Regions from separate parts of the Homo sapiens genome. Here region 1 is linked to region 2. Evidence: fine-mapped expression QTL. Tissue or cell type: whole blood. Region 2 holds a variant in brackets; the other region holds the start of a gene. All regions are shown on one strand. Distances are between the middles of the regions.

Region 1 (2,667 bases), 27 kb after region 2:
CCGCCTGCCTCCTCCGGGACCACCGGGCCTGGCTCCTCTCACAGACTCTTTGAGAGCGTATTTGTGAAACGTAGCATATTGTGGGTGATTAGATTTAAATTTCAATACACTTTGTTAAAAATAGAGTTGGCTCTCGCCAAGAGGAGGCCGCAGGAAGGGGCTCTCAACGGCTCGTCTTTGGAATATTAATAGTATGGAAATGTTATTAGAATAATTTTTCATCATGAATAATAAATTAATGGAATAATTCGGCAGCGCCACGTGACATACCCTGCTAAGAGGGGCTTTGTTTTAACAGAATGGGGAGGGTGGGTTTGGGGTGTGGGGGAGGGCAGAGCTGGGGGAGGGTCCGCCCAGGGCAGGCGGGGTTGGGTGGAAGTGAGTGAGGTGCCTGAAGAGATGAAGGCTCCGGAGGCATTTGGGGAGGAGGACAGAGACCTGGGACCAAGTCCTCAGGCACTTTTAGCTTCATGTCTCAGCCAGGGTTCTGGCCCTGGCCGGCTCCTTCCCACAGAAAAGCTGGGAAGAGATCTTGGTAGGTGTCCGGCCCCACACACCATCCTGCTGGGGGTGGCTGGGTTGGACTTCACCATCCCCACAGCCCTGCAGCCTCCCCTCCTGCATCTTTCTCCTTGGTAAATGCCAGGAACCTCAAAAGCACCCAGAGGCCCAGAGAAATTGAGCACACAGGGGTGGGGAATTCAAGAGCAGGAGCTGTTTCTAGGGCCCCAGGGGCAGGGCCAGGGTCTCCTGGTCATTTCTGTGCTCGGGACCCCTGCTGCACCTGAGCTCACTGTGGAAACTGCCTGAGGGGGCCACACGGAGCTGATGGGGACAAGCATGCAGGGTGGGCACCCTTGTGGGCTCAGCTTGGTCCAGGGTGTCCACTGGGGGACGGGGAGGGAGATGGAGCACCAGGGAAGAAGCGTCTCTTCATGTGGTCAGCGCCCCCTCCTTCTCCCCACTCCCTCCTTTTGCCTCCCTTCCTGCTGCTGCCTGCACGGTGAGAACAGAGATGAGATGGCCCCTGCCCGGGAGCAGTCAGCGGCACCACAACCCTCCCAGGCCAACCCAGCTCCTGACAGAGAGGGAGGGAGGCAGCCTGGGGCTGGGGGCCCTGGCAGCAGTGGCACACGGAGTGTGCACATGGATCCTAGTCAGCCTTTTGCAGGGCGCTGAAGCCAGTGGGGGCCCCCAGGGAGGTTTTGGGGGAGTGTTGAGGGGGCCTGAAGGGTTCCGCTCCTCCCACCCAGGGAACCGCCATGCCACTAGTGGGCTGTCCTGGAGACTCGGGGAGAAAGCACACAGGCTGTCGGGAAAGGTGGGTCGCAGGCGGGCAGGGCAGCCCTGCTGTACTGATGGGCAGGCGCTGGGTGGGTGGAAGGCAAAGCCATCAGGTCATCCCCCTCTCTGTCCCTGCATTGGGCCAACCAGGTGTGTCAGGAGGATATTTGACCATTCCTGAGAGGCACATTCTCTCTCTCTCTCTCTCTCTCCCTCTCTCTCTCTCCCTCTCTCTCTCCCTCTCTCCCTCTCTCTCCCTCTCTCTCCCTCTCTCTCCCTCTCCCTCTCTCTCTCCCTCTCCCTCTCTCCCCCCTCCCTCTCCCTCCCTCTCCCCCTCTCCCTCTCCCTCTCTCCCCCTCCCTCTCTCTCCCTCTCTCTCCCTCTCTCTCCCCCTCTCTCTCCCTCCTCTCTCTGTCACACACATTTGCACATCCTGCAGTGTGAATGGAGTATGAATGTGTGTGGTAGGCGACAGCTGTGTGTGTACGTCCGGGTGCGTGTGTGCGTGTGTACATGTGAGCGTGTGTGCACGTGAGTTAGAGCCTGAGTGTCCCCTGCGTGGGTTAGTGTGTGCGCCCGCCCGGTGCCCTCCGTCTTGGGAGTCTGGGCTGCTGCTCCGCGGGCTCTGGAGCCGGCGCTCCCCACGAGCCCGGACTCTCCGCCGCGCCCGGGAGCTGCGCAATCGGCTGCTAAGACGCCGGCGCCACCGGCTGGGCCCTGTTCTCCCCTCTCTTTTCTACAGTCTTACCCGCAGCTGACAGGGTTCGAAAGAGCATGAAACGGAGGAGACGTTACAGCAACGTGTCAGCTGAAATGATGGGCGTAGACGCACGTCAGCGGCGGAAATGGTTTCTATCAAAATGAAAGTGTTTAGAGATTTTCCTCAAGTTTCAAATGAGGCGAATCCCGTTTTCCGCGATGCTGCAGCGCGCGGGTTTTAACCGCAGGGTCACGCGGAACGCCGCGCCGCGCGACTGTGCCTCGGTCTCTGCGCCCGGCTCTCCCTCCGGTCCGCAAGAGGAGGAAGGCCCGCGGCGTGCCGAGGTCAGCGGCGCGGAGCCACCAGGCGAGACGGTCACGGACGCCTGAACCGAGGTCACCGAGGCCACGGGGCCGGGAGGCCCTCAGCAGAGCCCGGGGGCTCCGCACCTCAAGGCCGGCCAGGAAGAAACAGCAGCAGGAGCCCAGGGCGCCCCGGGGAGCCCCCGACACGCGGGCCGAGCGCCCAGAGCGGCCCAGGCCCTCGCGAGGAGACCGGCCTCCCCAGGGCGGGGCTTCCGACTCGGGCGCCCGTGAGCCCCGGAGGCGGCGCGAAGGGGCAGAGTCCGCGTTTCTAACCAGCCCCCGGGTGGGCGGTGGCCCGCGCGGCACGGTGGGCGCGAG
Region 2 (2,848 bases):
GGCCCCAGGGCAGTCCGGCCCAGAGGGGGCTGCCTGCTCTGAAGGAGGGGCTTCCCAATGTAGAGGTCCCAGTGGCCCTGGGTCCCAGCTGGGGGTGGACTTTGGTGACAGGCAGCCCCCACCTGAACTGGAGGAGCCTCATCGAGGGTCCTAAATGATACTACAGATGAGACGTGCATTTCAAATCTGAGGGCAAGGCTGGGACCCTGGGCCCTGGCACGTGGGACTCTGGAATCCACCTGAGTGCCCATTCCTGCAGGAATTCCTGAGATTGCTTGGCACCTTGCGGGTTGTGGCTGGTACTGAGGTGAGCGGTTGAAATGTCCCCCAGGACTGGTCAGCTGCCCTCCCAGTTGGGCTGGGTGCCCAAGTGTTCACAGGGCTCTTGGGAGGACCTGGGTGGCCTTGTGCACCCTGGGGGCTGTTGGTCTAAGGGTGCAGGGGCTCCCTGGAGGTCGGGAGCTCTCCCTGGGGCCAGCTGCAGCCCTGCGATGTGCCCTCCCCTCCCTGCACAGGCTGGACACACAGGGACACTTCTTCCCCGGAGGCTTCTCCAGTCCCCAGGAATCTGTCCCCCACCTGTCATCAGGAAACTTCAGAAGATCAGGAATTTTTTTCTGGAGCTGCATTTTGCACAGTTTCCTCTTTTTAAGGGAGGAGGCTCGGAGTCTCCGGTCACCACAGCCGATTTCCCTGAAGCCTCCGCAGGGGGCCACCCCCACAGAGTTTTATATGCTAACAGTTCTTAAATTCGGAGTCCTGTGGGAAGGTGGGAAAGTTAGGTATATACACTTTTTAATGTTTTTGTTTTTGTTTTTTTGTTCTACTCAAAAAGTCATTGGTACCTAGGTAACACACTTAAAGAAAGGCACACTTTGTGGCTGGGCACAGTGGCTTACACCTGCAATCCCGGCATTAGGGGAGGCCGAGGCGGGCCAGTCTCGCTTGAGCCCAGGAATTTGAGACCAGACTGAGTAACATAGTGAGACCGCATCTCTACTAAGAAAAAAAAGGTTAGCCAGGCGTGGTGGTGCGCACCTGTGGACCCAGCCACTTGGGAGGCTCAGGTGGGAGGATCACTTGTACCCAGGTGGTTGAGGCTGCAGTGAGCCGTGATCAGGCCACTGATCTCCAGCCTGGGTGACAGAGTGAGACCCCGTCTCAAAATAATAACAATAAAATAAAGGCACATTTTGAGAACAGAAGATGTTTCTGAGTTTCACATGTTGCCATATCCTGTGGACAGCTTATAGTGGGACACCAGGGCAGATATTGAAGTTTGATGTAACTTGTGAATGGCTTAAAAAGTGGTAATTTCTTGGGATCAGAAAGCTGATTAAGGCAAGGCTGAGAGGAGTCAGCTTGCCTCTCTTCCACAGCGTCCACTGGGACAGTTCAACCCTATCTGCGGGACCAATCTCCAAGACGTGAGTTGGCACAGCCATCAGTTCGTCTCCATGGATGTCTCCACGGGCAACCTGAGCTCCCACGTGGCATGGTGATGGTTCTGAAAGTGGGTGTTCCAGGAGACAGGAAGTGCCAGTTCC[T/G]TAAGGCCTGGGCCTGTGGTAAAATATGCATAACACGATTTACCTTATTAGCCATTTTAAGTGGTATTGAGTCTGTTCATAATGTTGTGCGGTCATCACGACTGTCCACCTCCAGAACTCTCTTCATCTTGTAAAACTGAAACTCTGTCCGAATTAAACAACTCCCATCCCCCCTCCCTCAAGCCTCAGCACCCACCGTTCTACTTTCTGTCTATGAATTTGACTAAGTACCTCACACCAGTGGAATCGTATAGTATTCGCCTTTTTGCGACTGTCTTATTTCACTTTGTATCAAGTCCTCAAATTTCATCCACGTTGTAGCATGGGTAAATTTCCTTCCTTTTTAAAGGCGGAATAATATTCCATTGCGTGGATAGACCATATTTTGTATAGTCGTTCATCCTTCAATGGATATGGGGTTCATATTAGCTGTTATGAACAGTGCTGCTATGAACATGGGTTCACAGCATGCACATCTGCTATAGGTTATCTTTGAGACCCTGCTTTCAATTCTTTTGGGGGTGCACTCAGAAGTGGAATGGCTGGATCACGTGGTCATTCTATTTGGAGTTTTTTGAGGGAGTGCCATCCTGTTTTCCACAGTGGTGGCACCATTTTACACCCCCACCAGCCATGCACGAGGGTTCGTTTCTCCACATCCTCACCAACATTTGTTATTTTCGGTTTTTTCTCACAGTAGCCATCCCAGTGGGTGTGAGGCGCATCGCACTGTGGTTCTGATTTGCATTTTCCTCGTGGTTAGCGATGTTTCATGTGCTTATTGGCCATGTGTATGTGTTCTTTGTAGAAATGTTTATCCAAGTCCTTTGCCCATTTCTGAGTTAGGTTTTTTGTTGTTGTTGAGTTTTAGAAGTCCTCTGTATATTATGGATATTAATCCCTAATCAGATATATGATTTGCAAATATTTTCTCCCATTTTCTGGGTTGCCTTTTTTCCCTGTTAATATTGTCTTTTGGCTGGGCATATTAACTCTGCCTGTAATCCCAGCACTTTGGGAGGCCAAGGCAGGAGGATCACTTGAGGGTCAACAACCTGGGCAACATAGTGAGACCCTGTCTCTACAAAAACATAAAATAAAAAACAGCCTGGCACAGTGCTCCATGCCTGTAGTCCTAGCTTCTTGGGGGGCTGAGGCGTGAGGATCACTTGAGCCTAGGAGTTCAAGGTTGCAGTGAGCTGTAATTGTGCCACTGCACTCCAGCCTGGGCAACAGAGCGAGACCCTGGCTCTTAAAAAAAATAGTCTTTTGGTACAAAAATATTTATTTTTTACGAAGTC

The links. PIP is the estimated chance that this variant, and not a neighbour inherited with it, causes the effect.
Region 1: it holds the start of HAR1A, and the variant in region 2 is fine-mapped to the expression of HAR1A in whole blood (INTERVAL, PIP above 0.99).

The regions. Positions count from the first base shown.
Region 1 is chr20:63,100,083-63,102,749 of GRCh38, forward strand. It overlaps HAR1A (highly accelerated region 1A), which reads left to right and starts at 1,210. Exons shown (of 2, transcript NR_003244.2): 1 at 1,210-2,667. HAR1B (highly accelerated region 1B) reads right to left here and starts at 2,237. Exons shown (of 3, transcript NR_152601.1): 1 at 2,033-2,237. RefSeq lists a silencer at 2,286-2,667.
Region 2 is chr20:63,073,375-63,076,222 of GRCh38, forward strand. No RefSeq gene overlaps it. Among named protein-coding and RNA genes, the nearest start is that of LINC01749, 5.2 kb to the right of the region's middle. The variant T/G (reference allele first, on the strand shown) is at 1,548.